2 separate regions of the Homo sapiens genome follow, and region 2 is linked to region 1. Evidence: fine-mapped expression QTL. A gene starts in region 1. The other region holds a variant in brackets. All regions are shown on one strand. Distances are from middle to middle. Region 1 holds the start of FRYL (FRY like transcription coactivator). Region 2 overlaps FRYL (FRY like transcription coactivator).

Region 1 (5,383 bases):
AAAGAATTTCCAATAGGAATGGTAACATAATTTTTCAGAGGAAAAATAATTACTGGTTAAACTATGGAACCTCTTTGAGGGGTACATTTGCATATAAACAGGGAGAATAGTGATCATAACATATTTCACTTTTTTTGTATTTTTTATTTTTGACACGGAGTCTTGCTATGTCATCCAGGCTGGAGTGCAGTGGTGCGATCTCAGCTCACTGCAACCTCCGCCTCCCGAGTTCAAGCCATTCTCCTGCCTCAGCCTCCCGAGTAGCTGGAATTACAGGCATGCGCCACCACGCCCGGCTAATTTTTGTATTTTTAGTAAAGACGAGGTTTCACCATGTTGGCCAGGCTGGTCTTGAACTCCTGACCTGAGGTGATCTGCCTGCCTCGGCCTCACAAAGTGCTGAGATTACTGGCACGGTGTGAGCCATGGTGCCTGGAGGTATTTCACCATTTAAAAGACTTTAACAAACATCTATATACAATAATTTAAAAAGCTTTATTTACATTAGCACATTGGAGAAGGGTGTGTGTGTGTGTGTGTGTGTGTGTGTGTGTGTGTGTGACAGAGTGAGACTCTGTCGCCCAGGCTGGAGTACAGTGGTGCAATCTTGGCTCACTGCAACCTTCGCCTTTCGGGTTCAAGTGATTCTCCTGCCTCAGCCTCCCCAGTAGCTGGGATCACAGGCCTGTGACCATTCCCACCAGCTAATTTTTGTATTTTTTGCAGAGATGGGGTTTCGCCATGTTGCCCAGGCTGGTCTTGAACTCCTGGCCTCAAGTCATCCACCTGCCTTGGCCTCCCAAAGTGCTGGGATTACAGGCGTGAGCCACTGCACCCAGCCGAGAAATATTCTTTTTTTAAAGAGTGGGGATTGGGCTTAGAATGAGAAACTAAGGTAGAGAGATAAAGTCTCTCTGAATGAGAAAGTACAACTTGTAAAATTCTCCAGGGTTAGAACTGGGGCTGTGTTCATCAACACTGAACATTCTTAAGAATAACCTCTACGTTGTAAGCTCCAGGTTTGTAGATTTTTAAAATTCTTCTTTGCTGTGAAATGCCAGTAGGAGTATTAGTACCAGGAAGTTGCATGTGTGGGCTAAAAAGTGATAAATGATCCTATTGTGGGCAAATATGAAATATTTAGAGAAAAGAATAACACAAATTATACTTGAAAGGTGATAATCTCAGCATAGTTGGTTCAATGCAAGTAAGAGAATCTAGAGGTTACTGTAGACTGCCTTCTCTAGTTTATATGCCCAGTCTGCTAGTGCAGCAAAAGAGGGCAGTAACAAGCTGGATATCATAGGGCAGGTGTTTTAGAAAGAACCTGAAAACATCACTTAGACCTTGAACAAAAGCTGCAGGTGTGTACATGCCTGAAACACTGGATATCTTTATCTCCAGAAGATCATACTAGATATCAGTACATAGTATCTTCTTCTTCTTATATTCTAATGTAGAATATTAGAACCCAGAAGCAGTCTCAGAGTTTGAGAGTGGTAAGTGAGTAAACCAGAAGTATTAGTTTAGCTTGGCTGCAGTTTTATTATACAGTAAAATCAGAATAGGCTAAGCATAGGGATTTAGTTATAGGGACTTAATAGGGAGGATGTGTGTATCTGTGAAGGCCATATAAATGCAACCCAGATAGTTCATCGTCTCTTGCCCCCACTAGTGATACCTAAACCACCTTCCTGCAACGTTCCCTTTTGTTTCCTGCTCTTTCATATTTTCGGGAATCCTCATGAAATTTTTCACCTGTATTTGGGGAAAAGTCCTATGAACTACCAACTACTGATGTTTACTTACCCTTCTCTGTCATCATCAAGCCCCTTTTCTAGGGTACTGCTGAGCACTGACACTTCCTTGGCACCATTAGATTATACTGGGGTATCACTGCAAATGTACTAAAGCCCCCGGGGTACACAGTCTTCAAGGTTCATCGGCAAAGAGGGAGAGAACACATAACCATTTTCCCCTAACATTCTTAGATGGGTACCGAAGCTGTACCTGTACTCAATTTTAGTGGAAATAAACCTTTTAGTTCTTACAGCTCCAGTGGGAAACTGGGGAAACTCTAAAGCAGACCCCGCACTAGGCTTCCCCATAATTTCTTCTCTTTTCAATGCGTGAGGTTCTGCTCCATGGTCAAGCTTCTGGTATCAGATTCCCTCTTTCCCTTAGACAGACTCGTTTTCTCCTGAGAGGCATCTCAGTTGTTCAAGTGACCTGGGGTGTTTTTCCTACAGTTCTAGCAAGGGGGAACGAAGTCCTACACTTTGAGGATGGCATAAGGGTACCATCTACTTAATTTTTTCAAAAAAGTAACAGGTCTCGTGGAAACGCGGGAACGTCACAGAGGACGTGACTTAAACGGAACTTGTAATGGAAATGATTTTCTAAATGAACAATTGCGAGACAAGCAAGGAAACCTCCAGGTTTGCAGATAACTTGATTAAAGCTCTTCCGGGTGGCAAAATGCCAGTGCAATCAATGGTATGAGTAGGGCGGACAGTGGATGAAACTTGTTGAGTAAATCTCAGGAGGAATTAGCACTGGACTTTCAGGTATTCTAACTCAATTCTAACCATTCCATTCTCTGGATCATTGGATAAGGTTCCGCAGGATCCGGGCGCCAGCTCTGGATACATTACTGATCGGGAGAAAATTTTGAATTTTTCTCTTGTCCCTTTCCAGCTTTCCTCAATATAGGATATGAGTTTGTCCTCGACCCCTAACAACATTTAAAGGTAAAGTCGCTCCTAGAAGGCAAAGCGGAGAGGACTTTGCGGCTGTGTTTCTCAAGCCCGTAAAGAGAGAGTAATAATGGTAGGGAGCGTGCAGACTAGCTCTTTCCTTGCCCAATCAAGTGTACAGGAAGATGTCCTTTCACCAATAAAAATAAAGTTCGCTTTCCGGAGGCGGGAGGGTGAGCCTTGACTGCCAGGGCTCCAAAGCAACGTTAGAGGCGAGGGCAGAGAATGATTAGAGGGAAGACCAACCCGGGAAAAGGGGCGGGGAGAAGGTAGGAGCAACTTTGAGCGGCGGCTGGCCAGGCCAGTGGAGGGCGAGGACTGCTGTTCCTGTTGTAGTGTTTCTCGCCAATCAGGAAGGCCAGGGGGCGGGCGGGGTAGGGAAGGGGTGGGAAGACCTCGCAGCACAGCCGGGCGCCCGTCGGGCTCTGGGAGAGAGCGAGAGAGAAATCCGGTTAAAATCAGAGTCGGAGGGAGGTTTAACCACAGATCGGTTCCGATCGGATTATTCCTTAAAGGGGACGCGCCATTGTCAAGAGAACGGAGCCAGGGGCCCGAGGGCGGGGACCGGCGGCGCTGGAGGAGCGAGGCAGCTGTACTAGGACTGGGAACGGGTAGGTGTTGACTGGGGAAAGGCGCTTCATTTTACTTTCTCTTCCAGCCCCGGGGCAGGCGCCGGGATGCCCGCCGCCGGCAGCCCAGCCTGGGCGGGAGACGAGGTCGTCGGCCCTCGCCAGCTGTCCTTCCTGGTGGGCGCCGAGGGAAGGCGGTCCAGGATGGCTGGCAAGCGGCGCGGCGCGGCCCGGGCCGGCGCTCGTAACGGACACCAAACCGCGGCGCAACCCCAGCCTCAACCGAAAGCCCGCCCGAGCTCCGGCGGTTCCGCCGGCAGCGCCGCGCGCCCGTCTCTCCCGCACGTCCCCTTCCCCTCCAGTGCCTGGCTCTTCTCGCGCGCGCCCGGGTACCCCTCGCGCGCCGCCTTCTCGCGCGTCCTGCTCTGGTCGCGCGCCGCCTCGCCACCGACTCGCGGGAGCCGCCCCGCGGGAAGGAAGGCGGTGGCAGAGGTGGAGGAAGACCGGCGACCACGGCTCCGCCGCCTCGGCTGGGAAGGGAGGGCTGAGGAGCAAACTTAGCGCGGCGGCTGGCGGGCCCCGGCGGGCAGGGCTGGCGGGGACCGGCGGAGCGCGCCAGCCCAGCCGGGCATTGTCCGCCTTTTCCCTTGCTCTGGTCTCTCCGCCCACTGCTCGCGGTCCTGGGGAGGGGTGCGGGCGCTGTGCCCGCGCAGCCCCGGGCCGTTGGCGTACCCCGGGACCCGGAGTCTTCCGGAGCCGGAGCCAGCCCTGCGGACACCGCGGCCACCGCCCGCGAGCTGACTCGGCCTGTAGATTGCCTGCTGCTCTCAGCCTCGGCACCGGGCAGGGTGCCTGGGCGCTGAGCTCTTCTTTGCAACTTTTATTTGCCGTTTGATGGAAGTTGTTGCTTCCGGGCGGCAGGTTCTTTGGGCACAGCCTGGTTTCCTGCGTTCTGGAGAGGCTGGTTTCTAGGGCGAAATGATTTATTGCTGCCGGTCTTTCCTGCCATCCTAGTTTAGTTCCTCGCCACCTAAAATCGCATTTTTGTGGATTTGCAATGATATGGGAGCATTAATCTTTCCTAGGCCAAGATTTGAAAAGAAAAAAAAGGGGGTGGGGGTTAGGGTGTGTGCTGGTGAGGAGCAAGAGTTCTTAGTAGAGCTGAGTTTGCCCTTACCTTTGAACTGCGGAAAATATTACTTCGATTCACTGGCTGGGGTTCTTTTGGAAGGGTAGGGGAAAAAAGACACAGCAAGACAGGTTGCCAGGGTCTGTCGGATTGGGGGGGAAAAAGGGTTTTGATGGAAGTAAAGTTGGTTTTATAAAATGCTGTGCTGCCTAGGAGATATCGTCTGTAAAGTTGATTCTGCTACTGAATTTACAGCCATTATAATTAGTACCAACAGCTTTTACTATTGATAAAAACTAGTATAAGACGTCTTTTCATCTTGAGCATTATCACTCTGCTTAATCTGTCAATACTTGCCGAGGAAATCAGAGATAGCACATTCCTTGTTAGAGGCCTTAGTGAAGAATGTTTTCATAAGCATTCATTTTTGACAGTTTCTTCTTGTGCAATACTTTATGTAGAGTACTTGCATGTGCAAGTTACAACCGTATAAACAAAGTAGCAGTGGGTGTGTTATTCTCTGGTCTTTTTTCTGCTACTCATTATCAAAAATAGCATTCCATCGTGTCTTGTCTTCCACTCTGAATTATTTTGTAAAATTAGTTCTCTAAAAGAGGGAATTCTGTTGGAACATGTGACCCAGTTTTTTTTTTTTTTATTAAAGCAGTCCAACTTTTTAAAGCGTTCATCGATTAATTTATTGTCTAGTAACTTCGGAGTGGTGTGGAACATTGTAAATTCACAGGCTCAGCAGTAACAATAGAGAAACTACTTGGGAAATTGGAAGCCAATATCAGATAATGTTTGAAATAAAAATCTATTCTTCTCACAGAATTTAGGAAATAAAGACACACAAAAACAAATTCTTTGGGTTCAAGTGATCCTCCCACCCCAGGCTCCGTAGTAGCCGGGACTACAGGTGGGCACGA
Region 2 (5,383 bases), 210 kb after region 1:
TTAATTTAATTTGTAAAATTAATCCTAAGGGGATAGAAACGAAAACAGTGAAAAATGTACAAAGTTGTTCACAGAGGCAATATTTTTAGTAAGAGAAAATTAGATAAAATAAAATGATTCATTAATAAATGAAAATGTCTAGGAAAATTATGGTACCCCACCCTATGTTCGAATATCATGAATTAATTATTGGCATATAAAATTAACTATGTTAGTGTAAGAAAAGAAAAATAGGCCAGGCGCGGTGGCTCACACCTGTAATCCCAACACTTTGGGAGGCTGAGGCGGGCAAATCGCCTGAGGTCGGGAGTTTGAGACCAGCCTGACCAACATGGAGAAACCCTGTTTCTACTAAAAATACAAAAAATTAGCCAGGCATAGTGGTGCATGCCTGTAATCCCAGCTACTCAGGAGGCTGAGGCAGGAGAATCACTTGAATCCGGGAGGCGTAAGTTGCAGTGAGCCGAGATCACGCCATTGCACTCCAGCCTGGGCAACAAGAGCGAAACTCCATCTCAAAAAATAAAAAAGGATACCATTTTATATAAAACAGTTTCAACTAAGTAAAACGTATGTGGATTGCAAACTGATTGAATAAAAATATTGGTAGTATTCCCTCTATAAATTAAAATAAGAGGCCTATACCATTTTTTTTCTGGTTTCCAAATAGTCTATAATATAATGTGTTATTTTATAAACCAAATAAAAAAATAGACATTGTGTTTAAAACAGTAGGATTGGAATTAACACTTGTCAGTTTACATCATGTTTTTACATATTTACCTGTGTCAGATTATATCTGTGTAGCTATTAATAGAATATGTACCATTTTTCTTCCAGGGAACTAATAGAGGAATTACATCCCATAATTAAAGAAGCACTCGAAAGAAGGCCAGAGGTGAGCTGTGTTCTGCAGCCTTGTATTAGTGAACATTCATTTTTCTGCCATATTTACATGTTATATCAAAAGTTAGAAATTACGAAGACTATCTAGTGTATTCTTCTTTTTAAGATGCAGACACTTCCCCTCCCCGCAGAAGATCTTATGCAGAAACCCATTATGTAAAACGGATGAAAAATTGCTTTAACTTAAGTGAGGGCAGAAAATAGGGTCTAGAATGGAGTTGGCAAACTTTTTCTGCAAAGGACCGGATGGTAAATATTTTCGGCTTTACAGGCCATACTGTCTCTACTCAGCCCTGCCTTTGTAGCATGAAAGCGTTCGTAAACTACATAAAAAAAGGAGTGTGGCTGTTTGCCAGTAAAACAGTAAAAAATTTGCAGCGACAGGTAGCAGTGGGCCAGATTTGGCCCATGGGATGTAGTTTCACAAGACTGAGCCTAGATTCCCAAATCTACAGGTTCTGAGCAGCTTTCAGAAACTATAGGTCCAGTGGGACAGATGGTTATGAAAACCTTAATTCTAACAATTTATTACGCACTCAAGTAAAATCATAGAGAAGAGATTCTAAGAACTACAGAGAAGAAAGCCTGGGACTCTGGTTGCAGGGTAAGGAAGGCATTATAGATGAAGTGCTGATATTTCAGATGAATTTTGAAGCACGTTCCTCAGTGGACAAACAAGGGAAAAAGGTATTCTAGGCAAAGAACAGCATTTGCAAACTTTACAAAGAATTTTGAAATTGCAAATTTTTCTGTGTAGTTATATTATGGGGGAAGTGATTGAATATTAGGCTGGATAGCAAGATGAGAAATATCTCATGAAAAACTACTAGCTTTAGCTTTAACCAGTAGAACAGTAGTTCCTGTGCCTGTGGCATCTGAGAGTTACCTGGGGAGCTTGCTAAAAATTTTAGACTCCTGGGTCTATTGAATGAGAATCCCTGGAATAGGGTCCAGAAGTCTGTTTTTGTAAAGCATCTTAGATGAGTCTGCTGTAGAACATTGTTTGGGAATCAGTGCTGTTAATGTTGGGGATGCCCTGAGGAATTTAAGCAGGAGAGGGAGATGGTGATAATCCCTGCAGTTTAGGGACTTTGAAACATCATCTGCAATTCCTCATTCTCCTTTAATTCAGCACTGTAGGGTCATGATAGTATTCCTATTTTGTCATTGATTTGATTTTTGTTTCAGAATGATCAGTTTGGTTACAGTGCTGGATGACTTGTTAGAGAAATGTGAGATTGAAACAAAACAAAATAGCAGTATTTATTCTTCTGAATTTCAGAAGGAATGCTATTAAACACATGCAGTGATGTGCCTTGAATGTGAGTTATAGTTGAAGAGCTTTAGACTCACACTGTTTCTGTGAAGACAAAATGAAAACAGGCCAACCAAACTGCAAAAGCCAGTTGCAGAAATCTTCAAAGACTGATAAGAAATCATCCTGTTTCAAATGAA[T/A]TGCTGTCAACTTTAGAAAGAGCCAAGAGAAAAGTAAATGTAATTGATTAGTCATTAGTAAATTATCATGCACCTGGAAGGCAGAAAAATTGGGTCATGGACAAGAAAGTGAAATTTCAACTAGTAAATATGGTTTTAATTTGCTCTGTAATATGAAAATTACATCACAAATGAAATAATGACCTATAGTAGAAGGTGATATAGGTGATTGATATCTCTTACATGACTTTCTGCTAGAAGCAGAATCACGTTGAAATGTTACAGCTATTATTCTGGGCATTATTCTAGTTCTTTGGACCTAGTAATACAAACATATTTATTCATATCATAATGAGTAAAGAAGTTTTTCTTGTATTTGTTTATATTTTTTGTGCCAAAATTGTTGTGTAGAAAACTGTGGCATGAGCAAAATCTTAAGTCCTTTTTAGGATTGTTTTCCCTATACTTCTGTCATATTTTTGGGAGGGTATTAGGGATTCCTTATAATTCCATGATAACAGTTTACTAATTGCTTCAATTCCAAAACTGTCTGATTAGCAAATAACCTAAAAATGTAGTATTTTACTTCCCCTGACACACAGGGGTTGTCACCATGTAAGATGTCATGTGACCTTATTTGACTCATTCATTTCAAACTGTTCACTCATACCTCTTTGAGGCAGTAGCTACCAGAGTACCCACAGTCTACACTGTACAAGCAAAATAACTTCAATGAGCCCAGAACCTCTCTCTGAGGCAGTCACATTATTCTTTCCAAGTTACACCAGCAGGATTTTAATTAATGTGTTTGTATCTTTGGAATAGAATATGAAACGGCGCAGGCGTCGAGACATTTTACGAGTACAACTGGTACGAATATTTGAACTGCTGGCAGATGCTGGTGTCATTAGTCACAGGTCAGTATTGGATTCACATTGTTAAAACTCTGGAATGATCCTAGAGAACGTAATCTCTTTTCGCTCATGAAATGTATAAAAACAGAAAAGCACCATTGCAACAAGAAAACCTGTATGTATCACTGTGAAAATTATTTAACAAATAAATATGCATTCGATACACTGACCAGTAGCTAAAAATGTATTGAAAAATCTACTACCAGAATTGGATTGCTTCTGGCAAAAAATGGATATAATGTTCCTATGATTTTGATATTTGTTGGAACCTAGTTATCTTGGCAAGTGGACAGTGGTAGCTTTTTCTGTCACAAAGGAAAAAAGATTTTCCTTTTTCTTACCTCATTTTAAAGATGTTTTTCTTCTGAGCTTGAAAAAATAATATATTCACAGGCTAAACATTGTAAAGCTTACAAATTTATTCAAATGAACTTGCTATCTATCCTGCCAGGGAAAATTATGAAATCTTACAAATATAATTCATAACTGTTTTCCACCATTCACAGATAAAACCATGAAACCTGGAGATATTGCCGCAGTAAAGGCATCTTCACACTAAGCCCAGCCCCTTGAGGAAAATTCCATCAGCTGAATGTTGAAAAATAACTATTTCCTTAGGAGGATAATGGTGTTACCTGACCGTTGAAGGAGAAATATAATAGATGTGACCATATCCAAAAAGGTCACTGAAAAGATATCTTAAGGAAAAAAAAATGGACTAGGTGCAGTGGCTCACGCCTGTAATCCCAGCATTTTGGGAGGCTGAGATGGGTGGATCACTTGAGCCCAGGGGTTGGAGACCAGCCTAGGCAACATAGCAAAATCCCATCTCTATAAAAAACGCAAACAATCAGCCAGGAATAGTGGCAGACACCAGTAGTCCCAGATACCTGGAAGGCTGAGGTGGAAGGATCACCTGAGCCCAGGACATTGAGGTTACAGTGAGCCTTGACCATGCCACTGCACTGCAGCCTGGGAAAAGAGCGAGACTTTGTCTTGAAACAAAAAGGAAAAAAAAGAAGTATTATTAATCCAACAAGTGTAGTAACTATGATAACTGCACAGCATTATTCCTTTAGCATTTCTCCCAATTATTTATTTTACCGAACACCTTTCATATGTAGCATTGAATGCTTTTGACAAATACTTTCAAAATAGATTTTTAATCAGAGTATTTAAACCATTGATTTACTTTTCTTTCTTAATAAAAAGCAAATAAAAAAAAGAAATATTGGCCGATGCAGTGGCTCACACCTGTAATCCCAGCACTTTGGGAGGCCAAGGAGGGCGGATCACCTGAGGTCAGACTATCCTGGCCAACATGGCGAAACCCCGTCTCTACCAAAAATACAAAAATTAGCTGGGCACGGTGATGCGTGCCTGTAGTCTCAGCTACTCGGGAGGCTGAGGCAGGAGAATCACTCAAACCCAGGAGGTGGAGGTTGCTGTGAGCCAAGATAGTGCCATTGCACTTCAGCCTGGGTGAGAAGAGTGAAACTCCGCCTCAAAAGAAAAAAAAAGAAAGAAAGAAATACTATTCTCTTTTCTTTCCTCCACAAAAAATAAGAGTTAAAGTTAGGAAAAGTGAAATTGAAACTTGTGGGCTTGATGCAAAAAATTAACAACCTGATACACATCTGAATCTTCTTTGGTTGCTTTAATTGTAGCATTCGTAGAAGAATCTTTGAATGGTTCTATTTTGGGGACTGCAAAATTTTGCTGTATTTAAAATTACCAAAAACTATATGACTATTAAGCAATAATGATTTTTGAACCCAGTTGTGTATTTTGTTTTGAAGTATTTTTTAAAGAGTTATTAATAGAAAGTTATTGCTATTCTGGATTTTTAAATTTTCATGGCTACGGAAAAAAATGAATTCTGAATGCCAAGAAGACAGGGAGCTTTGTTTTGTTCACCTAGTGGATTTCATGTGCCTGACACATAGAAGGTAATGAATATTTGTTAGATTAATGAAGATTTTATTCTGGTACAGGTTGTAGTCCACTAAATCAGTTTCCTATCCACTAGTAGGTCATGATCCAGAGCTTGAAAAACACTCATTTAAGGAATAAAGGAAAAAATTTGAAAAACACTTATTTAAGGAATAAAGGTCATACATTGATTCATT

Evidence for each region. PIP is the estimated chance that this variant, and not a neighbour inherited with it, causes the effect.
Region 2: its variant is the best candidate, but not a certain one, in a credible set for the expression of FRYL in whole blood (TOPMed, PIP 0.80).

Annotation. Positions count from the first base shown.
Region 1 is chr4:48,778,062-48,783,444 of GRCh38, reverse strand. It overlaps FRYL (FRY like transcription coactivator), which reads left to right and starts at 3,166. Exons shown (of 64, transcript NM_015030.2): 1 at 3,166-3,367. RefSeq lists silencers at 3,121-3,230, 3,321-4,200.
Region 2 is chr4:48,568,701-48,574,083 of GRCh38, reverse strand. FRYL (FRY like transcription coactivator) reads left to right here. Exons shown (of 64, transcript NM_015030.2): 26 at 841-898; 27 at 3,166-3,257. Among named protein-coding and RNA genes, the nearest start is that of ZAR1, 81 kb to the right of the region's middle. The variant T/A (reference allele first, on the strand shown) is at 2,362.